Regions from separate parts of the Homo sapiens genome. Here regions 1, 2, 4, 5 and 6 are each linked to region 3. Evidence: fine-mapped expression QTL. A gene starts in region 3. Each other region holds a variant in brackets. All regions are shown on one strand. Distances are from middle to middle.

Region 1 (5,170 bases), 110 kb after region 3:
AAACTTGCACATGTACTCCTGAACCTAAAATAAAAGGTAAAAGAAAAAAAACTTGACTGAGTGTGGTGGCTCATGCCTATAACCCAAGCCTGTTGGGAGGCTGAGGCAGGCAGATCACCTGAGGTCAAAAGTTCGAGACCAACCTGGCCAACGTGGTGAAATCCCGTCTCTACTAAAAATACAAAAATTAGTTGGGCGTGGTGGCCTACACCTGTAATTCCAGCTACTCGGGAGGCTGAGGCAGGACAATCATTTGAACCAGGAGGCAGAGGTTGTAAAGAGGTGAGATTGCACCACTGCACTCCAGCCTGGAGGACAGAGTGAGACTCCCTCTCCAAAAAAAAAAAAAAAAAAAAAAAAAAAAAACATTTATTGGAGATTACTATCTTGAAGAAAATATTCGGGCCTAGGCAACCACAATCTGCCAATGAATCTCTGATGACATAACCAATAAATTTTCACCTGGATCTTCCAAGTAAAAACACTAAATAACTGTACCAAACCAATTATTGCATTTGGTTTGCTTCATCATGCAACTTATAACAGACTTTTCTTCAAGTCTCTCCCATGGATCACAACCCACAAGCCATAGCTGGGCGCTCTATGGTTCTTCTTTTTTTTTTTGAGGTGGAGTCTTGCTTTGTCGCCCAGGCTGGAGTACAATGGCGCGATCTCGGCTCACTGCAACCTCCGCCTCCCGGGTTCAGGTGATTCTCCTGTCTCAGACTACCGAGTAGCTGGGACTACAGGCACGTGCCACCACACCCAGCTAATTTTTGTATTTTTAGTAGAGATGGGGTTTTACCATGTTGGTCATGCTGGTCTCGAACACCTGACCTCGTGATCCGCCCGCCTCGGCCTCCCAAAGTGCTGGGATTACAGGCGTGAGCCACCGCGCCTGGCCCGCTCTATGATTCTTGAATCACGTTTTGATTAAATTCTCTAATATTTTTACAGTGACTCCCACACATCTCTAAAAGGAAAAATGAGGAACTAGGGACCCCAGGGACCACAGCTCTTACCACTTATGAATCCTGCACCCTGTGTCAGGATTCTCCCCTGATAACTTTCCCAATCCCTGTACAATCTGGATGAGATGAGGCGCTGGGAGTGCAGAGCTGCCCAGAGAGGGCTCCAGCCCAGGGCAAAGCCACTGCAGAGGAAAAAGACAGAACTCCCAGGGTCCCAGCCGCTGGCCCAGGCACCATCTTAGGGCTGGAGGGGGCTAACAGCCGAACTGGGCCAAGGAGGATTTGGGTCCTCAGACTCCGGAGCTGACTGCGAGGAAGTATGGGTCCTGCTGCAGCCACTTTCAGCCGGTTCCAACCACCTCCCACCCCTCTCTCACGATGACAGACCCAGCACTCACCATTTCTCGGCTTCCAGGGGGTCCCGGTCTTTTAGCCATAAATCTGCGGATACCTGCAGGACACAAGGCCACAGTGGCTTGACCTCTAAGAGCAGAGGACGCAGAGCAGTGAAGAGAAGAACTGGAGCTCTGGACGCAGAGAAACACAAAAGGCCCGGTAAAATTACGGAGGCGTCCTGTTCTCTCCAGCTGCATGCCTGATTATACAGTTTCTAATATATGGCCCCTGATGGGATAAGGTTTCAGGCCCCACCCTTCACGCCCTGAGTGACGGAATATTTGATCAGACGCTAGGCTGAATGAAGCAAAAATAACAGCCTAAGCTGCACCCTTTACAGGCAGGGCTTCTTCCCTGATCTGAGCCAGGCCAACACCAGAGGATATTTGCATTTAACCTTGTGTATAACGTCATATGCATTTATAAATGATATATAATATAGTTATTCACAAATTGAAATAATATAATGACAATTATTTTAAAATTTCGGATTTTATGACCTTCCTTGCTGCGGATCCTTTGCAGTGATATGGTTTGACTCCGTGGCTCCACCCAAATCTAATCTCAAATTGTAATTCCCGTCCGTGCGCGGTGGCTCACGCCTGTAATCCCAACACTTTGGGAGGCCGAGACAGGCGGATCACGAGTTCCGGAGTTCCAAACCAGCCTGGCCAATACGGTGAAACCCCGTCTCTACTAAAAATACAAAAATTAGCCGGGCGTGGCAGCGCGTGCCTGTAGTCCCAGCTACTCGGTAGCCTGAGGCAGGAGAATCGCTTGAACCCAGGAGGTGGTGGTTGCAGTGAGCCGACATGGCACCATTGCACTACAGCCTGGGCGACAGAGCGAGACTCCGTCTCAAAGAAAAAAAAAATTGTAATTCCCATGTGTCACGGTAGGGACTGTGTAAGAGGTGATTGGATCATTGGGGTGGATTATCCTCATCCTGTTCTTGGGATAATAAGGGAGCTCTCAAGA[T/C]ACCCGATGGTTTAAAAATGTGGCACATCTCCCCTCCCCACCTTCCCGGTTCTCTCTCGTTTTCCACCGTGTGAGATGTGCCTTGCTTTCCCTTCACCTTCTGTCATGGTCATGATTGTAATTTTCTTGAGGATTTTTCAGCCCTGAAGGACTATGATTCAATTAAACCACTTAAAAAAATTACGCAGTGTGAGGTATTTGTTTATAGCAGTGTGAAAATGGACTAATACATGCAGGCAGCCTGAGATTTCAAAAAGGAGGCAATCCTCTGCAGTAAAATATGAGCCACATGTAAATTTTGGATTTTCTAGTAGCCAAATGTTAAAAAGTAAAAAGAAAAAGGTGGGGCTGGGTACAGTGGCTCACACCTGTAATCCCAGCACTTTGAGAGGCCTAGGTGGTGAACGACCTGAGGTCAGGAGTTCGAGACCAGCCTGGCTGACAAGGCGAAACCCCGGCTCCACCAAAAATAGAAAAATTAGCTGGGTGTGGTGACAGGCACTTGCAATCCCAGCTACTAGGGAGGCTGAGACAGGAGAATTGTTTGATCCCGGGAGGCAGAGAATGCAGGGAGCTGAGATCATGCCACAGCACTCCAGCCTAGAGACGGAGCGACTCTGTCTCAAAATAAAAAAGAAAGAAACAGGTGGAATAACAGGTGGAATTGACTGTAACAATTTAATCAGCCCAACATATCCAAAATATTATTATTTTACTATGTGATTAGTATGTAATGGTTAATAAAGCATATACATTTTTGAAGCTAAATCTTTGAATGTACTCTTGTATTTTACCTTTCCAGCACATTGCAGTTCAGACCAGCCATATTCCAGCACTCTGTGGCCATATCAGAGGCGTTTGAACCAGAGCAACTGCATCTGGAATAGGTGCTGGGTAAAATGGGGCTGAGACCTACAGGACTGCTTTTCCATGAGGTCAGGCATTCTAAATCACAGGGTAAATAGGAGATTGGCACAAGATGCAGTTCACAAAGACCTTGCTGATAAAACAGTTTGCAGTAAAGAAGCCAAAAAATCCACCAAATCCAAGATGGGAGTGAAAGTGACCTCTGATTATCCTCACTGATCATTACGCGCTAATTATAATGTGAAAGACATTCCCACCAGCGCCATGACAGTTAACGAATGCCATGGCAACATCAGAAAGTTACCTTACATGGTCTAAAAAGAAGAGAAACACTCAGTTCTGGGACTTGCCCACCCCTTTCTTGTAAAACTCATTAATAATCCACCCCTTGGTTAGCATATAATTGAGAAATAACTGTAAGTATCCTTAGTTGAGCAGCCCACACTGCTGCTCTGCCTACGGAGTAGCCATTCTTCTATTCCTTTACTTTCCTAATAAATTTGCTTTTGCTTTGCACTGCAGACTTACCCAAAATTCTTTCTTTTCTTTTTTTTTCTTTTAGACAGAGTCCCCCTCTGTCACCCAGGCTGGAGTGCAGTGGCGCCATCTCGGCTCACTGCAACCTCCACCTCCTGGGTTCAAGAGATTCTCCTGCCTCAGCCTCTGGATTAGCTGGGATTATAGGCATGCACCACTATGCCCGGCTAATTTTTGTATTTTTAGTAAAGATGGGGGTTTCACCATGTTGGCCAGGCTGGTCTCGAACTCCTGACCTCAAGTGATCCTCCTGCCTCAGCCTCCCAAATTGCCGGAGTTACAGGCAGAAGCCACCACCCCTGGCTCTAAATTCTTTCTTATACGAGATCCAAGAACCCACTCTTCGGTTCTGGATTGGGACCATTTCTGGAAGCTTCATTTCATTGAATCACAAAGGGACGAAACTAAGGAAACCCCCAACCCAAAGGAAATAGACTGAATCACCAGTTGGCTAACTTTTTGCAAGTGGTGGCGTACCCAGGTAAAGAATGGGATTGGGTGGAGTTAAGAGTTTGCAAGTGGTGGCGTACCCAGGTAAAGAATGGGATTGGGTGGAGTTAAGAGTTTCTCCTAAGACGTATAAGATAAAAGGTCTCTTTTAATAAAAGGCAAGAATACTTGACAAAACTTGTGTTTGAGGCACAACTTCAAAAGGTTAGAGTCTTTCCTAAGATTTAGGGGGTTAGAGGCCCCTCTCAGTAAAGTCCCTCTCAGCTAAGATTAGATTTGGCATTATGGAGTGTTAACCACTGTTGTCTTTGTGATTTTTTGTTTGTTTGTTTGTTCGTTCGTTTGTTTTGAGACAGAGTCTCACTCTTGTCACCCAGGCTGGAGTGCAATGGCAAGAACTTGGCTCACTGCAACCTCCGCCTCCCAGGTTCAAGCGATTCTCCTGCCTCAGCCTCCTGAGCAGCTAGGATTACAGGCGCCCACCACCACACCCAGATAATTTTTGTATTTTTAGTAGAGATGGGATTTCACCATGTTGGCCAGGCTTGTCTCAAACTCCTGACCTCAGCTGATCCACCCACCTCAGCCTCCCAAAGTGCTGGGATTACAGGCATGAGCCACTGCACCCGGCCTTGTCTTTGGATTAATCTGCCTTGCACTTTTTGCTAATGGCTGTGGCTGACAGAATTAGGCGAGTACAGGATCATGGAACGTGGGGAGCTTTTTCCTCCCTAAAGTGGGAAACTTGAGAGCAGATGGGACTGCTGAAAAAGATTCTTTCACAACAAGAGATCACCTACACTTTTGATTCACTGCAATGCGTGGGTCTTTCTCTGGCTTTCCTGAGCTCCTCACCTTTCCTGCTCCACCATAGGCCACGCTTTTCTCTCTCTCTCTTCTTTCTCTCTCTCTCTCTCCTTCTTATCTTTTCTGTTACTCTGGGCCACCATCTTGCCCAGAGATCACATGTT
Region 2 (5,170 bases), 470 kb after region 3:
AGCTGTTAGACATTGTAGTATAATGATATCATTTGTGATCATGTATAGCATCTTAGAAAATGTGGCCCAACTAAATCAGCATGGTCAGCATGGTCCTAAGTTGTTTTAGTGAAGTGATCAAATATCAGAGGCTTTAAATAAACCCTGGACAGGTGGCTTAAATTTCTGGTGAAATGTTCGAATCTTCAGTTCAGCTATTTTACACTATCCTTTAAGTGAGAGCATAAACCAGATTTCATGGGTGGAGGGAAAAAATTAACATTTTGAAATAGCTTTTGCTTATCTTAATCAGCAAATAACCTTCAAATAAGGTTCACCAAAATACTTCAACCCAGTAATGTTTTTTGAATGCTTCCCCATTGCTCTATTATACCACTTTTTTTTTTCTATGTTGTTTTTGCAGTGAGCCAATGATTAAGGCATTCTTTTTTCTTTCATTCCCTGATACCACCTGGGGTGGATGCAGCAGATCAATTTAACCTCTGAGTTTACCCAACTACAATATTTTTTCCAATCTGCTCATCTCCTCCAGTTCGGAGCTTTGGACAGTCTCCAACAAAGACTCCAACAGTTAAACATAGATTGGACATCCTACTTGAAACTTACTGAAATTTAGTGTCAGTTACCCAAATCAATTGACCTTCAAATCAAAACATTTTATTAAAAAATGGAACAAGTAGTCTATGCAATCATCATCAAAAAGAAAGATAACTTTTCTGTAGGTTTGGGTTCTTTTAAGTGTAAAATATCAGAGAAAAATTAATCAAATTAAAATAAATGTATTAAATATGTATCTTGATTTGCCATAGCAATTAATTACAGAGAACATCAAGGCTGGCCCAATAATTTGAGAAAGTAGTTTTTCCTTTATACCAAGATGTCATCACACAAATTTTGTAGTTCTGACTTAACTAAAGTTAAGCTATAATGTGTATGAATTCAATTATTCATTAAATAGATAAATGTATTGAGTTGTAAACACAAAATACTCTGTTAGACACTATGGAGAACAAAAAGGTGAATATTACTCTACCCTTAAATGATCTGTAACAAGTAATAAAAGCAGCCGGGAGTGGTGGGTCATGCCTAAATTCTGGTCTAAGGTGGGCAGATCAGTTGAGCTCAAGAGTTTGGGACCAGCCTGGGCAACATGGAGAAACCCTGTCTCTGTGAAAAATATAAAAATTAGCTGGGCATGGTGGTGTGCACCTGTAGTCCCAGCTACTTGGGAGACTGAGGTGGGAGGATCACTTGAGCCTGGGAAGTGAGGCTGCAGTGAGCCGAGATCACGCCACTGCACTCCAGCCTGAGTGACAAAGTCAGACTCTGTCTCATAAACAAAAAAAAACAAAAAACACACACACATAGAATAATAAATGCAACTAAAAACCTAACCAAATTAACAGGCTATAAAGGACTTTATTTTATTTTTTAGTTTTGACACAGGATCTCACCATGTTGCCCATGCTGGTCTCAAACTCCAGGGATCAACGGATTCTCCAACCTTAGCCTCCCAAACTAATGGGATTATAGGTGTGAGCCACCACATACAGTCAGTTTTTCATTTAATTTTATTACTATTTTTTGAGGCAGGATCTTTTCTCTGTCAAGCAGGCTGCAGTGCAGTGGTATAATCGTGACTCACTGCAGCTTTGAACTCCAGGACTCAATCCATTCTCCCACCTCAGCCTCCTGAGTAGCTAGGACTACAGGCACACGCCACCACACCTGGCTAAGCTTTGTATTTTTTTGTAGAGATGGGGTTTCACCATGTTTTCCAGGCTGGTGGATTTATAATCATAACCAAAACAATAACAATTATAGCTACCATTTATTGAACATCCACTATATGTGGGATAAATTCAGTCAATTATAAATTGTGTAATCTATCAAACAAACTTTGGGTTATTGTTCCCATTTTACAAATTATGAAAATAATTCTCAGAGAGTTCAACTAAATTTCCTGAGGTCACAGTGAGTAAATGGAAGGAGCAGAGCTTAAACCTAGGACTGTGTGACATTAAAGGTCATGCTGCTTCCACTGGTGATGCTAACACCACAAGGAGAAACAGTTAAAATTTTTAAATAAAGGCACAGTGCAGTGGCTCATGCCTGTAATCCCAGCACTTTGGGAGGCCGAGGCAGGTGGATCACCTGAGGTCAAGAGTTCCGGAAAAGCCTGACCAACAGGAAGAAACCCTGTCTCTACTAAAAATACAAAAATTAGCCAGGCATGGTGGCGCATGCCTGTAATCCCAGCTACTAGGGAGGCTGAGGCAGGAGAACTGCTTGAATTCGGGAGGCGGAGGTTGTGGTGAGCCGACATCAAACCATTGCACTCCAGCCTGGGCAACAAATGCGAAACTCTGTCAAAAAAAAAAATTAAAATTAAAATTAAATAAATAAAAATTATCAGGTAAAAAATGTTCCTTCTTTCAAAAATACAAAGAAAAAAAAGCCCAGGTATTTAAGATTTTTATAACCTAGTAAAATCTTATGTGTTTTTTATCTGAAAGAAATCATTCTGAAGATACATAACTTGCAACATCACCATTAAACATATCCAGTTTCAAATATGTGTTCACCCCTATCTACCCTTTTTTTTTTTTTTTTTTGAGACAGAGTCACTCTTGTTTCCCAGGCTGGAGTCCAATGGTGCGATCTCGGCTCACTACAACCTCCACCTCCCAGGTTCAAGTGATTCTCCTGCATCAGCCTCCTGAATAGCTGGAATTACAGGCATGCCCCAATACACCCAGCTAATTTTTTTGTATTTTTAGTAGACACAGGGTTTCTCCATGTTGGTCAGGCTGGTCTCAAACACCACTCAGGTAATTCGCCCACCTTGGCCTCCCAAA[C/T]GGCTGGGATTACAGGCGTGAGCCACCGCACCCAGCTGCCCTGTCTACCTTTATCTTTGCAACTGAGTTCTACAATTCAAATGAACTATCAACTGGGAAATTATTTTTCATATTGATGATATTCTGGTCTTTATAACAAAATCCTTAATTCTAGAAATGATGTACTTTATACATGAAAGAGGAAAGAGAGAAATTTTGTTATTTTCAAGATTTAAAATCTTATTTAAGGCTGAGCATGGTGGTTCACACCTGTAATCTCAGTAGTTTGGGAGGCCGAAGCAGGAGGAATGCTTGAGGCTATGATTTCGAAACTAGCCTGGGAAATAGAGCAAGACCTGGTTTCTACAAAATTTAAAAGTGAGCCAGGTACAGTGGCATGTGCCTGTACCTAGCTGCTCAGGAGGTTAAGGTGGGAAGATTGCTTAAGCCCAGGAGTTTGAGGCTGCAGTGAGCTTTATCATGCCACCGCATTCCAGCCTGGGCCACAGAGTGAGACCCTGTCTCTAAAAAAAAACAACGACAAAAAAAACACTCCACACCTTTTATTTAAGATATGCTTCATCAAGGCCAGGTATAGTGGCTCACACCTGTAATCCCACCACTTTGGGAGGCTGAGGCATGTGGATCACCTGAGCTCAGGAGTTCAAGACCAGCCTGGCCAACATGGTGAAATCTCATCTATACCAAAAATACAAAACTTAGCCGGGCGTGGTGGTGTGCGCCTGTCGTCCCAGCTAGTCGGGAGACTGAGACAGGAAAATCACTTGAACCTGGGAGCCAGAGTTTGCAGTGAGCCAAGATTGTGCCACTGCACTTTAGCCTGGGCAACAAAGTGAGAGAGTGAGACTCTGTCTCAAAAAATAAATAAATAAAACAAAGAAAACAACAACAACATATGCCTCATCACAAGTTAATAAAAACAGAAGTGACATTTTTAAAAGGAATGAAAAGTCTCTTTTGAATATAGGCTTATATTTCTCAATAAGGCTATCAAGTGAAGGTTTTAGCCTTCTTAGTAGCTAGGACTACATGAGTGTGCTACTGCACTTGGCTGAAGTCCACTTTTTTGGAAAGTTCACTTAATAAATGTATATATATTTTTGAGAAGGAGTCTCATTCTGTCGACTAGGCTGCAGTGCAGTGGCACGATCTCGGCTCACCGCAACCTCCACCTCCTACTTTAGCCTCCTAAGTAGCTGGGATTACAGGCACGCACCACAATGCCTGGCTAATTTGTGTATTTTTAGTAGAGACGGGGTTTCACCATGCTGGCCAGGCTGGTCTCAAACTCCTGACCTCGTGATACGCCCACCTCAGCCTCCCAAAGTGCTGGGATTACAGGCGTGAACCACCATGCCCAGCCTAGTTCACTTAATACTTTTACAAACATATATTACACCTTTGCTTGTAATTATAATCACTATTAAAAAATTACTAGCCAGGGCTGGGTGCAGTGGCTCACACCTCAGCACTTTGGGAGGCCAAGGTGGGCGGATCACAACGTCAGGAGTTCAAGCCCAGCCTGGCCAACATGTTGAAACCCTGTCTGTACTAAAAATACAGAAATTAGCTGGGCATGGTGGCAGGCACCTGTAATCCCAGCTACTCAGGAGGCTGAGGCAGGAGAATCGTTTGAACCTGGCAGACAGAGGTTGCAGTGAGCCGAGATCGCACCATTGCACTCCAGCCTGGGCGACAGGGTGAGGCTCTGCCTCAAAAAAAAAAAAAAAAAAAAAAAAACCCAACCAAACAAAAATTACTAGACAGGCAGGGAGCTCATGCCTGTAGTGCCAGTACTTTGGGTTTGCTTGAGCTCAGGAGTTTGACACCAGCCTGAGTAACACGGCGACATCTCATCTCTACCAAAAATATAAAAATTAGGCAGGTTTGGAGGTGCACACCTGTGGTCCCAGCTATTTGGGGGGCTGAGGTAAAAGATCAATTGATCCGGGAGGTCAAGGCTGTAGTGAGCCATGATCACACCAGTACACTCCAGCCTGGGTGACCAAGCGAGACCTTGTCTCAAAGAAAAAAAAAAAAAAGTAAAAACAAACAAGACACAGTATGCCAAGCTGTTCTAAACAGTTAACATTTCTTTTTTTTTCTTTTTTTTTGAGACAGAGTCTTGCTCTGTTGCACAGGCTGGAGTGTGGTGGTGTGATCTCAGCTCACTGCAACCTCCGTCTCCCGGGTTCAAGCAATTCTCCTGCCTCAGCCTCCCGAGTAGCTGGGACTACAGGCGTGCACCACCATGCCCAGCTAATTTTTGTATTTTTAGTAGAGACAGGGTTTCACCATGTTGGCCAGGTTGG
Region 3 (5,170 bases):
ATGTGTATTTTGCTTTGCAAATTTATACACTCCCTCACTAGAGTGGATCTTTCCTGTACTTTGGGACAGTTATTCTCCTTCACAAGCCTGAGAGAAACCAGAGGGCAAGATGCATTTGTGCCTTTTCCCCTCAATATCAGCACCTGATTGGTTGACCACCAATGTGTCTGCAAGAAATGAAAACTAGGATTGAGGGGAAAAAAATCTTAATGTTAAAGCAGTTAGCTTTTTAGAGGAAGGGTGAATCAGGAAACTGCTCTCAGCACGAGGGCATCCAGCTGCTCCCCTGAGAGGCTCCACCCAATGCCTCAGGCTCTTCTCTGAAAGGAGATGACCCAGGGGCTAATGTTTGCTAGACACTCCAAGAGATATGGTCCTTGTGGGTATCTTGGATCATCCCCAGAAAGCTGTAATACTTGGACCAGGAAAACACAGGAGAGTGACTGAGGACACATCACCCTGCAAAGGATCCAAAGACATTCTGGGAAGGCGCGCGTGCCTAGAGAAGATGAGAGGAGATGCGCAGTGTCAGGTGACTACTCTTTGCTTTTCTGTCCTGTGAAATATGCACAAACAGACTAATATATTAAAAAGAGCCACCCACGGCTCTGTTAAACAAAAATAAACAAAATGCCACATCCGTTTTAAAATTAAATAAAGAACTGATAGTTCATAATGTGATTTGGAGAGGGATAGTTGGCATTTGGGAATGTGGGAAAGAAATTGGAAATTTAGAATTTTATACAGTCCCTAGAACAGTTAGGCTGGGAGAACAGTTTTAGATTTGAGACCCTGCTTGCCAAACATTTGAAAAATGCAGAGAAAACCAACGACCCTGTGGAGCATTAAAATAATTAAATAGCTAGCAATTAGGCTGAAGTGGCCATGGTGCCCTGGGATTCTGCCTAAGGAAACCTAACTACGTCGAAGGAATTTCTGGTAAATTATTAACTTTGAGAAACAACAACAACAACAACAAAACAACTTAGGCTTAACCAACCACAAGCTGCCAATAAAAAGCTCTAATTACATAACCAGGACATTTCCACCGGAGGGCTGCAAATGCAATACGTAACTGTAACCAATCAAATATTGAATCTGGTTTGCTTCCTCATACCTCTTAAAAAAAAAAAACAACCTTTTGTTCCAAGACCCTCCTTTGAGCCCCCAAACAACAAATCATAGCTGGGTGTTCTCTGATTGATAAATTACTGTTTGTGCAAGTAAACTATTTGTATTAATCGCTTCTGGCATTACTATAAATACCTCAGACTGGGTAATTTATAAGAGGATTAATTGGCTCATGGTTCCACAGGCTGCATAGAAAGCATAACACCAGCGTCTGCTTCTGGGGAGGCCCCACCCAGAAAGCTTAAAATCATGGATGAAGGTGAAGCAAGAGCTTGAAAAAGAGGCAAGGTGGGGTGCTGTACACTTCTAAATGATGAACTTCAGGGAACTCACTCACTATTGAGAGGACAATACCAAGAGGAATGGTGCTAAACTATTCGTGAGAAATCCGGGCCCACAATCCTTCCACCAGGCCCCACCTCCAACATGGGGGATTACATTTAAATAGGAGATTTGGGCTGGAAAACACATCCAAATTATATCCTAAAGTTGCCTCAATTTAGGCTAGGGTGGTGGGTCATGCACGTAATCCCGGCACTTTAGGAGGCCCGAGGCGGGCGGATCACCTGAGACCTGAGCTCGGGGAGTTCGAGACCAGCCTGAGCAACATGGCAAAAGCCTGTCTCTACAAAAACAAACAAAACAAAATAGGCGTGGTGGCGCACCCCTCTAGTCCTAGCTACTTGGGGGGCTGGGGTGAGAGGATCATCTGAGCCCAGTAGGTGGAGGCTGCAGTGAACCGAAATGCACTTTAGCCTGGGCAACAGAGTGAGACACTGTCTCAAAAATAAATAAATTTAAAAAAGGGCCATGATTTTATTTTTAAAAGGAGAAAGGAGGGACTAGGGACCCCACGGCCCACTGCTTCTTCCACGGAGGAACTCCAGACCCTAAATGAGAATTCCCGTCTTATGACACTCCCAACACCCCCACACAATCTGGAGGAGGGAGACTCGAGGTTGCGGCACAGAGCTGCCCAGGAAGGGATCTGAGCTGGGGAGAAATTCGAGTTTAGGGACAAAACAAGACGTAGCGTTTTGGCTGCTGGCTCAGCCCCTAATCTGCGATGGAGGGAAATGAGGATTGAGCTGTGCCCGCGGGGACTCGGGGATGCAGACTCCAGAGCAGACCGCGAGAAGGCCCAGATACCACCGCAGCCGGTTCCGGCCGGATTCAAACAGCCTCTTCCCCATTCTCGGGACACCCACTCCACGCACTCACCATTTCCCAGCCTCCAGATGTTCCGCCGTCCTCCCTATGGATCTCCCAGTACCTGCAGGTCACAGGATAACAGAAGCTATAGTAGAGTCACCGAGGAACTCCAGGAACGGAGGAGATGGAACAGTGGAGACGCGAACTAGGATCAGAGCCCGGAAGCTAGGAGACAAAGGCCCCGCCATATTGAAGAGGCCGCCTCTTCCTCTGTAGCTGCGCACTTGATTGGACAGTTTCACGCTGGCGCCACTGATTGGCTAGGGCTCCAGGCCCCACCCGTTTCAATCCTAAGTGACAGAAGATGTAATCAGACACTGGGCTGAATGAGGCAAGGGTGACAGGTTTTTGCCTGCAGCGTTTTCAGGCGAGTCCTCCCTGTGCTGGGGGCCTGGCCCTGCCTGAGAGACATTTGTATTTAACCTTGCATATAAGATTATATCACTTTCTGATTATATTTTCGTGTGTGTGTATATATTACATTCTGAATTATAGTTATGTGTATGCTGCAGGCCCTGTCTCAGCATCCTGTCTTTCCCTTTAGCTGCAGGAGATCAAAGTCCTCCAGGAGATGCAGCTGCTTCAGCTGGCTGTAGACAATTATCACCTTCAGTCTGTGAAGCAATTTTGGGTCTGCTTCCAATTAATGGAGTGTCTCAGTGAGACTGAGAGGTGAGGGCCTAGCAGATTGGTTAGAGGTGCCACTCGCCCAGGCCTCCCAAAACACCCTGTCTCTTTCCCACCAAAGCTGAGCCTGCCTGAGGACCTAAACAAGCATGGAGAACCAAGATGGGACCCTAGTCAGGGATAGTGCTGGGCTGTGGGGTAAAGTCAGCTAGGTCAGGGCCTCCAGGTGTGGGGAGGAGCCGGCCTCTTCTGTAGAGCCCTGGGCAAGTCACTGCCCTCTTTGGGCCTCTGTTTTCTTATCTAAAAAATGTAGGGATGATGAGCCTCACAGGGTAATGAGGAGCTTCAAAGGAGAAAAATTTGAGAGTGCTTGTGCCTGGCTCTTCCTGAGAGAGATGATGATGAGAACAATGGTGACGGCTACATATAACTGAGTCCTCACGAGGCCCAGTGAGGTAGGTGTGGTTCCCATCACACTTTCAAGTTGAGAAACAGTCTCAGGGAGGCCTGGCTGCATGCCCAAGGTTCCACACACAGTGAGTGTTGCAGCAGGGAGTGAATCTAGAATCAGAGTTTACTGGAGGTGGCAGGAGCACTGGACCAGCTTGACTCACACCAGTTATCCAGGGTACCAGGTCAATGTAACTGGGCATAACTGGGTGAAGGGAGCATAATATCACTGACCTTGTCCTTGACCCTGGCAGAGGAAGACACCCAAGTTGGCCACCCTAGAGAAGAAACCACAGAAAGCCCAGATGAGGCTAAAGCAGCAAAAAGGCAGGTACCTGTGATGGGGAAGAGCTCCAGGGATTCAGAGGGAAGAGCTCCTCCCTCCCAGCTGGAGGCCTCCACATCAAAAGAGCAAGGGGCCTTTCTCCCTCAGCCCTTCCCTCCTGTGGCAACAGTCCCTGAAATGCCTCTATAAGAGAAATCAGAGTAAAGGCCTGGAAGAGCTGGGCTGAGTGGATTTGGGAAACGGTGGAGCTAGGGACCACATAACATTGTGACTTGTTAAAATCTCACCACAGAGTTAATAAGGGAGTGCTTCATGTTTTTGGAGGCCAGCTAGGAAGAGGGGAGAGAGTTGGAGAGAGGCAGCTGCGTGTCTTTGGCTTTTTCAAGTAAAAGATGTGGATAGGAGAGTCCAGGAGATGGGGGCTTATGAGATTTCAGGGACAGGCCTTGAATGGACACCCAAAAGTGGATACTCATCCCCATCACCACCTGATAGCACAGGGTGTTGCTGACTTTCACCTCCCCACTCTCTCCCAATGTTGCCCCAGCTGCTCACCTTCCTTTTCTTTCTGGGTGTTACATTTCCCTAGAAGTCAGCCAATGGTCATCAGAAAGGCCCCTTGGACCCTGACTAGGTCCCCTCCCCACACTCTTCATACTGCATTACTGCCAGGGCCACCAGGGGCAGGGGATGTGCACAAAGCAGGACTTGGGTCTGCAGCAGGTTCTGGGGTTCAAAGGGGACAATGGGAGCTGAGGCTCAGGGACCTCCCACCCCAACTCTCTTTGATGACAGACATAAAAACTGAGGGCTCCCATTTAAAAAAGTGCTCAGCCAGGCCAGGCACGGTGGCTCACACCTGTAATCCCAGTACTTTGGGAGGCTGAGGATGGTGGATCACCAGGTCAGGAGTTCAAGACCAGCCTGGCCAAGATGGCAAAACCCCGTCTCTACTAAAAATACAAGAATTAGCTGGGCGTGGTTGTGGGCACCTGTAATCCCAGCTACTAAGGAGGCTGAGGCAGAGAATTGCTTGAACCTGGGAGGCGGAGTTTGCAGTGAGCCAAGATCATGCCACTGCACTCCAGCCTGGGTGACAGAGGAGGCTCCATCTCAAAAAAAACCAAAAAACAAAAAACAAAAGTGCTCAGCCACATACGAGCTGCCTGCCCTTGGAGAGGCCTAAGTTTACTATCCTTCCATTGGCACCATCTGAGGGAGAGTCTGAGTCCAGCTCAGGCAAAACCTCACTGGGCTTTGCAAGCAGACAGCTCTGCAGCTTCATCACTCAGGGAACAGGGACTGGTGGCTGGTGTGGAATCTTCAACATTCATAGGGAAGAGGGGCCTGATACCTCAGCTCACAGAGGCAGCCGTGACGCTCTCATGAGAGGAAGTTTGCCAAGTGCTGAGATCTAAGGGTGTAGTCCTGATTCTCTTCTCCCAAGCCTCAGGATTCTGGTTC
Region 4 (5,170 bases), 23 kb before region 3:
CTGGCAGATGCAAATTAAATTCATTGTGAGATATTACTTTATACCTGTTAGGACTGCTAATATCAAGAAGATTTATAACAAGTGTTGACAATATATTAAAGAAAAGATGCTGTACAATTTTAGTGACGTACAATTTTTTAGAGACATTATGAAATCTAGTATGTAGGTTCTTTTAAAAATTTTTTAATAGTACTGCTATACAATTCAGCTATCTCATTTCTGCATATACAATAAATTTACTATCTCAAAGAAATACCTGCACCTCCATGTTCATTGAAACATTTTTCACAATTGTCAAGATACAAAAGCAATCTAAAGTGTTTGTGGAAACTGACTGCACAAAAAAAAAACATGGCATGTATACAAAATAGAATATTATTCAGCCATAAAAAATAATAAAACCCTGACATTCTACAACATGGATGGACCTAGATGATGTTATGCCGAGTGAAACATCACAGAAACAGACAAATACTGTATGATCTCACTTCTATGGAGAATATAATAAGGTTGGACTCCTAGAAGAAGAGAGTATAGAGGTGAGTGCTAGGCCCTGGAGGTGGAGAAAGTGGAGTATGTTGTTCAAATGGTACAAATTTTCAGTTAAAAGACAAACAAGTTATGGTAACCTAAGGTACAGCTTTATGACTACTGAAAGTAATACTGTTATGTATGCTGAAAATTTGCTGAGAGATCTTAATTGTTTTCACTACAAAAAAGGTAACTTGTAAGGTCATAAATGTGTTTGTTCATTAATTTGATTGTATTAATCATTTCTTTATGTATACACATACAAAATCAATACACTGTATACAATACATAGGTATTCAATTATTATTTGTGAAAAAATTCGCCTTACTGGGATTATATGTGTGTCATACACATGCGTATATAAATGTGTTTATATATATACATATGAATGACACAATCACAGTGAGCTTCATACTAAATAAAACCACAAAACGATGTCGTTTAAAATAAAGTTAAAATTGAGAGTTTAATATGTACTCAGCAGACTGGGCACAGTGGCTCATACCTATAATCCTAGCATTTTGGGAGGCCAAGGCAGGCAGATCACCTGAGGTTGGGAGTTCGAGACCAGCCTGACCAATATGGAGAAACCCTGTCTCTACTAAAAAATACAAAATTAGCCGGGTGTGGTGGCACATGCCTGTAATCCCAGCTACTAGGGAGGCTGAGGCAGAAGAATCGCTTGAACCTGGGAGGCGGAGGTTGCAGGGAGCCGAGATCGTGCCATTGCACTCCAGCTTGGGCAACAAGAGCAAAACTCTGTCTCAAAAAAAAAAAAAAACCAAAAAAAACAAAACAAAACAAAACAAAAAAAATACTCAGCAATGTTTTAAGCTCCCCAATGACATAGTATATTTAATAAACGTATGAAGTAGATACAATGAACTATAATACATACAGTTGAGGAATTTGGCCATATTTACCAACATTTGTTTATATGAAAAGAATAACATTTGAAGTAACACAATTTTAGAGTTTGTTTCATTTAGGGAGATGCTTAGTGTTTTGATATAATTACTGAGTATAAATTTCTGTAAAATCACGTTTGAAGGTTCCATAGAATAGAAAATTATAAAGCAGGAAGCACACATCTTTTTGTGGTATTCCTGGGATTTCTGATCCAAACTGTAATATCACCAAAACTTAAATATTTAGACATTATCCAAAAACAGAACTTAAAAAAATGGTTTAATATAGTTTCTCAAAAATACAGATATTGCTGTTTCCCCAAAGCAATGGAAAAGCAGTCAAATCACACATTTTCTGTCAAGCCATGAAAGACTTTCATTATTGCTGTAAACTAAAAACAAAAAACAAAACAAAACACACACACAACACACACACACACATTACTGAAGGGGAAGTACAGTGCTTGGAAAATTCACAAGAATGGGACAAAAAATGTCCCTATGTTAAAGCAAGAGAAAGAAATGAAGGTTTCTCAGAAACCATTTCCACTGGAGCAGAGCTTCTGGAAGCATGTTTAAAGGTTTGGCTTCCTCCTTGACATTGGGATCCGTCATTTGTGTCATCTGCTTCATTCACTCCCACCTACCTGGGTGTTTGGCTACTGCCTCCTGTCTCTTCACTTTCCAAGGCTCTTTTCTTTGCTCCAGACAGGTCATCAAGTCTGGCTTAAAGATAGCAAGACCTGTTTTATTAGAAAAAAAAACATGACTCTTGCTAGGATAATCTGATTACTAATCTAGTACTATGCTCAGTAGAGAAGAGAGAACATTATAGAAGACTCTAGAAAATTAATTTTAATATACTGTTTCCTAACAGAAACTTTAGAATATTTAGAAAGTATTTTAAATTTGTGGTTCTTAGCTCTATTACCCAGTAATACTGAATCAAAAATCAGCTGTGAAAATTGCATTTTTAGGTGTGGGTAACAATATTTTATGCTACTAAATTTCTGATATTACCACTAATTTAGACTGAAGTATACAGATGAGCTCAAAAAAGGGAAAGATTAATGTTAAGATGAAACATCTTGAAGATTATATTTTCTACCTCAACAGATACCCAATTTTTTCTTTTTGAAGCAGGATTCTGAAACTCATTTATGCAAAGCAGAACCTCCAAAAAAATCAGAAGAAAATAAAATATTTAATGTAGAATATGAGTTGTATATTGAAGTTATTCTCACCCAAGGAGACCAGGTTTCCATAGTTCTCTAACATCACATCCCTATACAAACGCTGCTGAGCAGAGTCCAGGCATTCCCACTCTTCTGGGGAGAATTCTACAGCCACATCCCTGAATGTCAACACTCCCTGGAAAACAAAACATATTTACCAAGTGACCA[T/C]AGAAAGAATTCTTGATTTGACATCAGGTAAAATGAGAATAAAGATAGCTGGTTCTGACTTATATGAGTTACTGGAGTTATCCAGTAGGATACTTTCTAGCACAGAAATATTCTCTAGTGTATTTTTAACTCTGAGAAAAGATGGCATAAGATCATGAAACCAGTGTATGTGCAATACTTTTCTTGATGATACAGTATAAAATAAAGGACATTAACACAGGCATGTACATTTCTTAATGCTACATTTACATAATACAAGAAAAGCTGTCTATAGTTCCCATATGGAAACTTCATGGTGAGTTAAAAGCATACTTCTCAAATCTTATTGTGTATAGCAATGAACAGGAGATCTTGTTAAAACCTAGATTTTGACTCTGAAGATCTAGCGTAAAGCTTGAGTTTCCAAATTTGTAAGAAGTTTGCCAGTGGTATCGTTGCTTCTGGCCCAAGGAGAATATTTTGTCAAAAATTCAGTAAGTGGCACAGCCTAGGTTTTTAGTTTATTTGACCAGTAAAGAAAGACGAGAGCCTTCATTTTCCATAGCAAGCGATATGCAAAGAGAAGGTAGGAAGAAAGAAGAGCTGTCAGATTAAACATGGCTAAATCTTGTTTTTGCACATCACTTGATAAACTCCCCAAGGTATCTATTAATAGAGAAAAATAATGAACTGTAGAGTGAAAAATATCTGTCAGAAAGCGTATTTACCAAGTAAATAAATTAAGATCAACTATATTAAAAGAAATTTGTATCAGGTGCTGATTAACAAAGAAGGATACAAGACTACTGTGCTATTATTAACATTAACACAAAAAAGGGTCAACAATCTGAGTCTAGTCATGAAGAAACATCAGTTTTAGGCAAAATGTAAGCTACAAATATCTCCCATGTTCTGTAATCTCTAATTTTTGGCTAAACTTTTTTTTTTTTAAACTTTAAGTTCTGGGATACATGTGCAGGTTTGTTACATAGGTATACATGTGTCATGGTGGATTGCTGCACCTATCAACCCGTCATCTAGGTTTTAAGCCCCACATGCATTAGGTATTTGTCCTATTGCTCTCCTTCCCCTTGCCCCCATCTGCTGACAGGCCCTGGTGTGTGATGTTTCCCTCCCTGTGTCCATGTGTTCTCATTGTTTGAATCCTACTTATGAGTGAGAACATGCGGTGTTTGGTTTTCTGTTCCTGTGTTAGTTTGTTAGTTTGCTGAGAATGATGGTTCCAGCTTCATCCATGTCCCAGCAAAGGACGTGAACTCATTCTTTTTTATGGCTGCATAGTATTCCATGGTGTATATGTGCCACATTTTCTTTATCCAGTCTATCATTGATGGGCATTTGGGTTGGCTGCAAGTCTTTGCTATTGTAAATAGTGCTGCAATAAACATATGTGTGCATGTGTCTTTATAGTAGAATGATTTAAAATCCTTTGGGCATATACCTAGTAATGAGATTGCTGGGTCAAATGGTATTTCTGGTTCTAGATCCTTGAGGAATCACCACACTGTCTTCCACAATGGTTGAACTAATTTACACTCCCACCAACAGTGTAAAAGCATTCCTATTTCTCCACATCCTTGCCAGTATCTGTTTCCTGACTTTTTAATGCTCGCCATTCTAACTGGTGTGAGATAGTATCTCATTGTGGTTTTGATTTGCATTCCTCTAATGACCAGTGATGATGAACTTTTTTTTATGTTTGTTGGCTGCATAAATATCTTCTTTTGAGAAGTGTCTGTTTACATCCTTCACCCACTTTTTGATGGGATTGCTTTTTTCTTGTAAATTTATTTAAGTTCCTTGTAGATTCTGGGTATTTGCCCTTTGTCGGATGCATATATTGCAAAAATTTTCTCCCATTCTGTAGGCTGCCTGTTCACTGATGACAGTTTCTTTTGCTATGCAGAAGCTCTTTAGTTTAATTAGATCCCATTTGTCAATTTTGGCTTTTGTTGCCATTGCCTTTGGTGTTTTAGTCATGAAGTCTTTGCCCATGCCTATGTCCTAAATGGTATTACCTAGGTTTTCTTCTAGAGTTTTCATGGTTTTAGGTTTTACATTTAAGTCTTTAATCCATCTTGAGTTAATTTTTGTATAAGGTGTAAGGGAGGGTGGTCCAGTTTCTGTTTTCTGCATATGGCCAGCCAGTTTTCCAAGCACCATTTATTAAATAGGGAATCCATTCCCCATTGCTTATTTTTGTCAGGTTTGTCAAAGATAAGATGGTTGTATATGTGTGGTGTTATTTCTGAGGCCTCTGTTCTGTTACATTGGTCTATATACCGGTTTTGGTACCAGTACCATGCTGTTTTGGTTACTGTAGCCTTG
Region 5 (5,170 bases), 56 kb before region 3:
GGCAAAATATCTACTCTTGGTGGAATTCCAATTTAACTTTGATCATCATGCCTGTGAACTGAAGCAATGTAAATTTCAAAATCCCATTTGTAGAAAAAAAAAAGTGGCAGGAGGGTAGCACAACTTAGGTGCTGTGGCAAGCAATATGTCACAATGCCCTCTCTAAGCAGGGTCTAAAAATGAGGGTTACATTAACTGGGTGCTGGACCCAGCAATATGACACAATCCCAAATGTGGAAAAAAACCCAGACAAATGATGAGAGCAAAAACACCTACAGAATGAGCCCAAGATATGTAAAAACACCTTCTGCTTCTCTGGCACAGGCAGGAGAGTTATATCATCAGGTGGGGGCCCAGCAATATGCTATAATTCTCTCTTATGCAGGACCCAGGCAGAAGAGGAACAGCATCTGGGTGCTGGGCCCTGCAATACATCAAAATTCCTTTTCACGGGCATGGTTTGAGACAAAAAGAAGAGTCATATTACCTAAGTATTGGGCTTAGCAATATGTCATATCACCCCATTGTAAAGGCTCAGGCAGAAGAAAAGAGTCACGTCACTTAGGACACGGGCTCAGATATATGGCCCAATGTCCCAACTAGGCAGGGCTCGGGCAGAAGAGAAGAGTCATATCGCCTAGGTGCTTCCCTAGGTATATAACACAATCTAACATGAGAGGTGAAAGCAAGCAGAAGAGCCACATCATCTTGATGCTGGGTCCTGAGATGTGTCACAAGGCTCCCTTAGGACAGGCCCCAGGCAAGAGAATTATAACAAAAAGGTGCAGGTTCTACCCTTATGTCACAATGCTCCAAGTGGGCAGGGCTTGAGCAGGGAGTCACATCACCTAGGTGACAGGCCCAGAGATATGTCACAATGTCCTCCTTGAGGCATGGCCCTGGCAAAAGAGTACCAACATCTGTGTGCCTGGCCTAGCAATATGTCACTATCCAGGTAAGCAGGACCCAAGCAGGAGAGCAACATCACCTAGGTGATAGGTTCAGAGATTTGTCACAATGCCCTCTTTAGGACATGACCCTAGCAAAAGTGTACCTGTGCGCCTGACCCAGCCATATGTTACTATCCCCCACTGGGTGCAGGGCCCATTCTAATGAGGAGAATTACATCACCTAAGTGGTTGACACAGTGATATGTCACAATGATTTCTGTGGGCATGGCTCAGGAGAAAATGTAACATGACCTGGGTGCTGGATCTAGTGATATGTCACAATTCTTACTGAAAGCAGGGCCCAGGCAAGAGAGTCACATCACCTAGAGGTTGGCCCAGGTAGAGATCACAATAACATATGTGGGCTGGACCCAGTCTGGAGAGTCAAATCACACAAGTGCTCGGCAAAGATTTATACGACAATCACAATGGCAGAACATTTCCAGGATAAGATTTACAATACCACATGTCCTGTTTTCATGACTGACAGTTGGCTTCATATATGTGAGACGGTGACAGTCCTTACTGTCAGCTGGGTGTGCATATGAGACTCACAATTGGCCGGGTGTGGTGGCTCATGCCTATAATCCCAGCACTACAGGAGGCCGAGGCGGGCGGATCACGAGGTCAGGAGATTGAGACCATCCTGGCTAACACGCTGAAACCCCATCTCTACTAAAAAATACAAAAAATTAGCCGGGCATGGTGGCGAGCACCTGTAGTCCCAGCTACTTGGGAGGCTGAGGCAGGAGAATGGCGTGAACCCAGGAGGCAGAACTTGCAGTGAGCCGAGGTCGCGCCACTGCACTCCAGCCTGGGCGACAGAGCAATACTCCGTCTCAAAAAAAAAAAAAAAAGAGACTCACTATTTCACCTTTCTGCTGGGTTGTTATGACACGCTCTGTACAAGCCAAGGGCTTTATAAAATATCTGAGGCTGTTATAATCTTCTTTGTTCTTTTCCTTTTTTTTTTTTTTAACAGAAAGAGATTTAATCACTTGTGTTTCTAAAGAAAGTTATGAGAGTCAAAATTAATCCTATTTGTGGGATCCACATATGAGAGTCATTATCATGCCTGTGAACTGTGCCTAGGTGTATGTCACAATTTACTCTACAGTAATGAAACAGGCACGACAGCTAAATAACATAAATGCTGAGCCTGAAATTTTCCAATATTCTCCATATAGGCCTGTTCCTGGCAGAAAAGTTGCATAACTTGGGGGTTACCTCCAGATGTATGGCACAATGCCCCTTGTGGGCAGTGTCCAGAAAGGAGACTCATATCACCTAAATGATAGGCCCAGAGATATGTCACAATGTCTCCTGTTGAAAGGACCAGGCAAGAGAATCATATTATTTGGACGCAGTGCTTAGAAATGCTACAATCCCTAGTGCAAGCAGGGTCCAGGCAGGAGAGGAGAGTCAGGTAACCTAGATGGTTAAGTCCAGAGACATGTTACAATTCTTCCTGAGGATATTGTTAACACAGGAGAGTCAAATCACCAAGATGCTCAGCTGAGGTAATTTTCCAAA[T/C]CTCATTTGTGGGTTACACTTAGGCAGGATTATTAAATCACTCAGGAGCTAGGCAAAGGTATATGTCACAATAACACTGGTGGAAAGTTCCAGGAATGGGAGTCACCATTTTGCATATGACCTGGCTCCACATTTAAGAGTCAGGATTAGTTCTCTTATCTGGCCTCAGGTATATGGCACAATATCACCTGTGAACAGAGAACAAGCAGGAAGGTCACATCATCTGCGCGGGTGCTGGTCCAGTGAGATGTCACAATCTTTCTGTGAGCAGGACCCTGGAAGAAGAGTCACATCATCTGGATGCTGGTTTTAGTGATATATCAAAATTCCCCCTGTGGGCAGGTGTTAGTAAGGTGAGGACACTGACTTCACCTAGGCAATTGGCCTAGATCTGTGTCACAATGGCCGCTATGTGCAAAACCAAGATATGAAAGTGACCTCACCTTGGCACTGGGTTTAGCAATATGTCACAATCTCCTCTGTGGTCAGGGCAAGGCAAGAGAGGAGAAAAATCACCTTGGTGCTTAACAAAGCTTCCTGTTGGCACAACCCAAAGCGCAGAGTCATATCACCTGGGTGCAGTACCCAGTTATGTGTCACAATGCATCATAAGTGCAGGGCCAAGGCAGTAGAAGGGAGTCACTTCACTTACATGATGGACCTAGATATAAGCCACAATGCTTTTTTTTTTTTTTTTCCCCGAGATGGAGTTTCACTCTTGTTGCCAGGCTGGAGTGCAATGGTGCAATCTCGGCTCACTGCAAACCTCCGCCTCCTGGGTTCAAATGATTCTCCTGCATCACCTCTGGAGTAGCTGGGATTACAGGTGCCCACCACCATGCCTGGCTAATTTTTTGTGTTTTTAGTAGAGACGGGGTTTCACCATGTTGGCCAGGATGGTCCTGAACTCCTGACCTCAGGTGATCCACCCGCCTTGCCTCCCAAAGTGCTTGGATTACAGGCATAAGCCACTGCGCCCGGCCAGCCACAATGCTTTTTATAGGCAGGGATCAGGTAAAGAATTCTCATCACTTGGGTGCTGGTCCCAGTGATTCATAAAATTGCCCTTGGTAGGCAGGCCCAGGCACCTTTGCTTAGGTGTATGGTCCACATATGTCACAGTTTCATCTGTGGTCATGACCTGAAAAGAAGAGTCGTTATTCAGGAGCTGGGCTTTTATGGTCTAATTACACACTTCGAAATATTCAGAAATAAGTTTCACAGTCCCACTCAAGTCCTGGCTCTGTGTGTGTGAGTCAACACCTCCTGTGATTTTGGTCAAAGCAGAGGACTCACAATCTCAACAATGGGCAAGATCCATGTATAAGATGCCCAATCCCACCTGAAGATTGTGTTCCAGTAGGGGAGTCCCAGCCTCACAGGTGTGCTAAATCATGCATCACCAAACCACAAGACAATGATGTCTACTTTTACCACTTTTATTCAACAGAGTACTGGAAGTCCCAGTCAGATCATTTATGCAAGAGAAATAAATAAAAGACATCCAAATAAAAAAGGTGAAAGTCAAATTGCCTCTGTTTGCAGATCACATAATTGTCTATATAGCAAAAGTTAAATACTACACTAAAAATCGTTAGAATTAATAAAGAAATTCAGTAAAGTGGCAGAATACCAAATTAACATACAAAAATTAGTAGGAACATTTTTACATGACAAGAATAAGCCATCTGAAAAAAAATTCAAGAAAAAAATCACTTACTACAGCTATAAAAAATAAGTCCTACTTCATTCTAAGTTCATGCTTGTGGTAAGGTTCACCTTTATTTTTTGTCATTTGGATATTCAGTATTCTCCAACCCATTTGTTAAAAAGACTGTTCCTTTCTCATTTTGAGTGATAGAGACAGTAGATAGCCAAGGGACCTTTTCCTATTTTGAGTCAGAGACAGGAGACAGTCAAAGGTCCTGGGCGAAACTCCGCCTTCAAGCCTAAAAAACAGCCTGAAGGCTGAAAAACTGGACTGCTGGTTTCAGATGAAGCCCGCCCTTTCCTGACTGTTTCTCTCTGAATAATGCCCACCTGTGCACTGGGAAAAGAAGTTGGAGCCATAGAAATTCACACCTTTTGGCAGAGGAGGAGACTGGACTCTTCAGTTGCTATGTGGTGACCTGGTGTTCATCAATATGTGAGGTGGGGGCCCGTTAACAGGAGTCCCTCTCACTTTGCTGACAGTTTTTTTTCTTTTTCCTTTTTGCCCAATAAACTTTACTCCTCACCCTTCAGTATGTCTGTTAGCCTATTCGTTCCTGTTCATGTGATAAGATCCTAGTTTTAGACGAACTACGGAAAAAGTTCTACATTTCGGTGTCTAGATGTGGGGCTTGAGGAAGGGTAAGATGTAAACCAAAATATCTTTTTCTACTTTGCTTGTAAGCCTTTTTATCCTTGGACTTCTCCGAGGGTAGAGGAAACTGTGCACCACCCCAACAGCCCCAGGCATATGCGGGATGGACAGGTGAATGGCGGCTCCTCACCCCCATCTCCTCTGGGCTGGAAAATGCCAGGCATTCACGGTGTCTTCCCCTTCACCGGCCAAGCGATCCAGCCTCATCCAATAACAATTAAGTTTTTCCCTCTGTTGAAGGAATCATTTGCATAAGAATGAAAATGTTCTTCCCTGCCCTACACTTAAGCCTTTCCCCCCCTTTTATTCACCCTGTCAGCAG
Region 6 (5,170 bases), 63 kb before region 3:
TGGTCCCTGTTATGACACTCTTTGTACCACTCAGGCTTTATATAATATGCCTGTGTCATAATCCTCTGTGAACTTTATACAAGTGGAAGAACCAGGATTTTACCCTTGGCTGTAAGATTGGCTATGAGAGTCAAAATATCTCTACTGGCTGGGTCCAGGTATAAGAGTTATTATTGTGCATGTGAGCTGAACCCAGGTATATGGCACAATTTCTCCTGTGGGCAGGGACAAGGCAGAAGAGTCACATCACCTGGGTAAAGTCTCAAGTAGTATGTCACCAATCCTATTATAGAAAGGGTTTAAGAAAAAGAGAAGAGTCACACTACCTAGTTGCTGGGCTCATAAATATGTAATAATCCCCTCTCTTGGCAGAGTCCAGAATAGAAAGGAGATACATACAACCCAGGGCACAAGCTGGAGAGACACATCATCTAGCTCATAGGCCCAGAGATATGTGATAATATCCCCTGTTGACAGGGCCCAGGCAGAAGAGTCACATTCATATGATTCTGACGCAGTGATATGTAACAATGCACCCATGGAAAGGAATTTAAGGAATAAAGTCTCAACACCTGGGTACTAGGCCCAGTGATATGACACAATCTCATCATCTTTGAGGGTGACACCTTTAACTTTTAGCTGAGTGTGTATATTAGAGTCACAATCTCACATGTGTGCTGGGCCAACGTATAACCCTCTCTATGACATCTGAGGGCTTTATAAAACCTGCATGAGAGTTGCAGACCTCTCTGAGGCCCACATGCTCGTATGGACTCACAATCTTACATATTGCCCTAAACCCAGGTTTGATAGTCAACATCTCTCCTTTAGGCAGGGTTAAGGGAGAAGACCTATTATTATGCCTGTGGGCCGGGTCCAGAAATGCGTCACCATCCCACCTGTGGCCAGATCCACGTATAAGAGTCACAATTCCAACTTTGTGCTGTATTCCCTTGTTAGACTCAGGACCTCAAGAGTGGGCACTGTAAACGTGGGATGGTGACAACTTTTAATTTCAACTGGGTGTGTAATTGACAGTCCCAATCTGAACTTTTTGCTGGACCCTGTTAAGAAACTCTCTACCACCAAAGACTTTATACAATATAAGTTAGTATTGTAAGCTTCTGTGACCTTGGTACAAATATGCAACTCAGGACCTTACCTATTGCCCTAAGCGTAATGATGAGAGGCAAAATATCTCCCATTTGCTGAATCCCAATATAAGTTTAATCATCATGCCTGTGAACTGAAGTAAGGTATATGCCATAATCCCATTTGTGGGCAAAAACTAGGCAGGAGGGTAACATCACTTAGGTGCTGGGCCAAGCAACATGACACAATGCTTTCTCTAGGCAGGGTATAGGAAATTGGGCCACAATAACTGGGTGCTGGACCCAGCAATATGACACCATCTCACGTGGAAAAACCCAGCCAAGTTATAAGAGCCAAAACACCTACATAATGGGTCCAAGATATGTCAAAATACATTCGGTGGCTCCAGCACAGGCAGGAGAGTCACATCATAAGAATGCTGGGCCAAGAAATATGCAATATGCCACAATTTCCTCTTTTGCAGAACCCAGGCAGAAGAGTAACATCATCTCGATGCTGGGCCCTGCAATAGGTCCAAATTCCTTTTTTGTGGGCATGGTTCAGCAAAAAGAGGAGAGTAACATATTCTGAGTGCTGGGCTCAGCATTGTGTCAAAATCCTCCTATTGTGAAGGCTGAGGCAGAAAAAGAGGGTCACATCATCTAGGTCATGGGGTCAGAGGTATGTCCCAATGTCCCCAGCAGGCAGGACTCAGGCAGACAAGGAGAGTTATATCACATAGGTGCTTCCCTAGGAATATGTCACAATGTAACATGTGGGCAGAGACCAGGCAGAAGAGCCACATCATTTGGGTGCTGGGTCCTGAGACAGGTCACAAGGCTCTCTTAGGACAGCACCCAGCCAAGAGAGTTACATCACCTGGGTACAGGTTCTCTGCTCATGCTACAATGCTCCATGTGGGTAGGGTCCAAGGAGGGAATCACTTCACCTAGGTGATAGGCCCAGAGATATGTCACAGTGTCCTCCATGAAGCATAGCCCTGGTAAAAGAGTACCATCACCTGTGTGCCTGGCCTAGAAATA[T/C]GTCACTCTCCAGATTGGCAGGGCCCAAGCAGGAGAGTCGTATAACCTAGGTGATATGCCCAGAAATATGTCACAATGCCCTGCTTTGGGCATGGCTCTGGCAAAAGAGTACTCTCATCTCTGTGCCTGGCCTTGCAATATGTCACTATCCTTCCTTTGTGCAGGGCCCATTCCAGAGAGGAGAGTTACATAACCTATGAGGTGGACACATACCCTAAACCCAGGTATGACAGTCAACATCTCTCCTTTGGGTTGGCTTCAGGGATGAGAACATTATTATGCCTATGAGCTGGGTCCAGAAATGAGTCACCATCCCAACTGTGACCAGAATCACTTAAGAAAGTCACAATTCCAACTTTGTGCTGTCTTCACTTGTTAGATTCAGGACCTCAACAATGGGCTTTGTAAATGTAGGATGGTAACAACTTTTACTTTCACCTGAGTGTGTAGTTGAGAGTCACAATCTTAACTTTTTGCTGGGCCCTGTTATGAAACTCTCTGTACCACCCAAAAAGTTTTTATGATATGAGTTAATGTTGTAAATTTCTGTGAGCTTTGTACAAATATGCAATGAAGGACCTTACCTATTGACATAAACCTAGTGGTAGGGGGCAAAGTATCTCCTATTGGCTGAATCCCAATATAAGCTTGATAATCATGCTTTTGAACTCAAGCAAGGTATATGTCATAATCCCATCTGTGGGCAAAAAATCTAGGCAGAATGTTAACATCACTTAGGTGCTTTGCCAAGGAATATGTCACAATGCTCTCTCTAGGCAGGGCCTAGGAAAGAGGCTCACATTAACTGATGGCTTGAGCCAGCAATATGATACAACCACACGTGGAAGAAACCCAGCAAACTGATGAGAGCCAAAACACCTACAAAATGGGCCAAAGATATGCCAAAATACCTTCTGTGGCTCTGGCACAGGCAGGAGAGTCACATCATTAGGGGGCTGGGCCAAGCAATATGCCATAATTCCCTCTTTATGCATGACCTGTTTATGCAGAAGAGTAACATCAACTGGGTGCTGGGCTCTGAAATACGGCAAAAGTCCTGTTCACGGGCATTGTTCAGCAACAAGACGAGAGTCACAATACCGAAGTGCTGGGCTCATCAACATGTCACAATCTTCCCATTGTAAAGGCCCAGACAGAAGAGAGTCCCATCACTTAGGTCAGGGGCTCAGAGATATGGTCCAATGTCACCAGTAGGCAGGGCTCAGGCAGAAGAAGACAGTCATATCATATAGGTGCTTCTTTAAGTATATGTCACAATTTAATATGTGGGCAGAACCCAGGCTGCAGAGCCACATCACCTGGTCCTGGGTCCAGAGATATTCACCAGTCCCCCTTAGAAAAGGATCCAAGCAAGAGAGTTCCATCACCTAGGTGCAGGTTCCACCCTTATGTCACAATGCTCGATGTGGGCAGGGCCAAGCAGGAAGTCACATCACCTAGGTGATAGGCCCAGAGATATGTCACAAAGCCTTCCTTAAAGCATGGCCCTGGCAAAAGAGTACCATCACCTTTTTGCATAGCCTAGCAATATGTCACTATTCAAGTGGTAGGTCCCAAGAAGAGCCATATCACCTACATGATAGGCCCTCTGATATGTCAAAATGTTCTCTTTTGGGCATGGCCTGGCAAAAAAGTATCATCACCTGTGTGCCTGGCCTAGGAATATGTCACTATTCTGCCCTGTGTGTAGGGTCTTTTCCAGAGAGGAGAGTTACATCTTCTAAGTGATGGACACAGAGATATGTCACGATGATGTCTGTGGGCATGGTGCAGCTGCGTGCTGGATCCAGTGATGTCACAATTCTTACTGAGAGTAGGGCCCAGGCAGAAGAGTTCTTTAACACTTCAAGGTTGGCCCAGGTAGATATCAAAATCCCATATGTAGGCTGGAACCAGTCTGAAGAGTGAAATCTCACAGGTGCTTGGCAAAGATTTATATCACATGAAATTTATATCACATGACTATCACGATGAAATAAAATTTTAGGGATTAGATTTACAATACCACACATGTTCTGTTTTCATGTAGGACAGTTGCCTTCATCCATCTGTGATGGTGAAAGTCCTTACTGTCAGGTGGGTGTGCATATGAGACTCACAATTTTCTCCATGTGCTAGGCCCTGTTCTGACACTCTCTATACAACCCAAGGGTGTTATAAAATATGTGTGTGTTATAATCTTCTGTGACCTTTTTACCAGAAGGAGACCCTTTACATCACTCATGTCCCTAAACCTAGTTATGAGTCAAAATTTCTCCTATTGGCTGGGTCCACATATGAGTCATTATCATGCCCGTTAGCTGTGCCTAGGTATGTGTCACCATCCCCTCTGTAGTTATTAAACAGGCAGGACAACCACATCACCTAAATCCTAAGCCAGAAATATTCCAATATTCTCTTTGTAGGCAGGGCCCTAACAGAAAAGTCACAAAACTTGGGTGCTAGGCTCAGCTCTATGGCATAATGCCTCTTGTGGAGAACATCCAGGCAGGAAAGGAGAGTCGCATCACCTAAGTGATGGGCCTAGAGATATGTCACAACTCCTGTTAAAAGGGCCCAGGCAAGAGAGTCATGTCATTTGGATGCAGTGCTTAGAAATGCTACACTCTTCACTGGAAGCAGGGTTCAGGTAGGAGAGGAGAGTCACATAACCTAGATGATGGGTCCAGAGATATGTGACGGTCCCTTCTGAGGACACTGTTAAGATATGAGAGTCAAATCACCAAGGTTCTTGGCCCAGGTATACGTCAATATGTCATCTGTGGGCTATAACAGGCAGGATTATTAAATCACTCAGGAGGTGGGCACAGGTATATGTCACAATAACACCTGTGGAAATGTTCAGGGATGAGAGTCACCATCCTGCACAAGTCCTGGCTCCAGGTACAAGAGTCCTTATTAGGCCTTTGATCTGGTCTCTGGTATATGGCACAATATTACCTGTAGGCAGAGAGAAGAAAGGAAAGTCACATCAGCTGAGTGGGTGCTGTTCCAGTGAAATGCCACATTCCTCC

The links. PIP is the estimated chance that this variant, and not a neighbour inherited with it, causes the effect. A credible set is the group of variants that fine-mapping cannot tell apart.
Region 1: its variant is the best candidate, but not a certain one, in a credible set for the expression of ZNF736 in whole blood (INTERVAL, PIP 0.72).
Region 2: its variant is the best candidate, but not a certain one, in a credible set for the expression of ZNF736 in visceral fat (GTEx, PIP 0.88).
Region 4: its variant is the best candidate, but not a certain one, in a credible set for the expression of ZNF736 in whole blood (INTERVAL, PIP 0.67).
Region 5: its variant is the best candidate, but not a certain one, in a credible set for the expression of ZNF736 in whole blood (INTERVAL, PIP 0.60).
Region 6: its variant is the best candidate, but not a certain one, in a credible set for the expression of ZNF736 in nasal epithelium (TOPMed, PIP 0.67).

What each region holds. Positions count from the first base shown.
Region 1 is chr7:64,203,441-64,208,610 of GRCh38, reverse strand. ZNF735 (zinc finger protein 735) reads right to left here and starts at 1,408. Exons shown (of 4, transcript NM_001159524.1): 1 at 1,370-1,408. The coding sequence starts at 1,408. The variant T/C (reference allele first, on the strand shown) is at 2,346.
Region 2 is chr7:63,844,396-63,849,565 of GRCh38, reverse strand. No RefSeq gene overlaps it. Among named protein-coding and RNA genes, the nearest start is that of LINC02848, 53 kb to the left of the region's middle. The variant C/T (reference allele first, on the strand shown) is at 2,859.
Region 3 is chr7:64,311,336-64,316,505 of GRCh38, reverse strand. ZNF736 (zinc finger protein 736) reads right to left here and starts at 2,545. Exons shown (of 4, transcript NM_001170905.3): 1 at 2,353-2,545. The coding sequence starts at 2,355. RefSeq lists an enhancer at 2,313-2,492.
Region 4 is chr7:64,333,899-64,339,068 of GRCh38, reverse strand. It overlaps ZNF736 (zinc finger protein 736), which reads right to left. Exons shown (of 4, transcript NM_001170905.3): 2 at 2,684-2,810; 3 at 2,087-2,182. Among named protein-coding and RNA genes, the nearest start is that of ZNF736, 23 kb to the right of the region's middle. The variant T/C (reference allele first, on the strand shown) is at 2,843.
Region 5 is chr7:64,366,918-64,372,087 of GRCh38, reverse strand. LOC105375321 (a long non-coding RNA gene) reads right to left here and starts at 1,566. Exons shown (of 2, transcript XR_007060355.1): 1 at 488-1,566. The variant T/C (reference allele first, on the strand shown) is at 2,484.
Region 6 is chr7:64,374,493-64,379,662 of GRCh38, reverse strand. LOC105375321 (a long non-coding RNA gene) reads right to left here. Exons shown (of 2, transcript XR_007060355.1): 2 at 1-5,096. Among named protein-coding and RNA genes, the nearest start is that of ZNF736, 63 kb to the right of the region's middle. The variant T/C (reference allele first, on the strand shown) is at 2,136.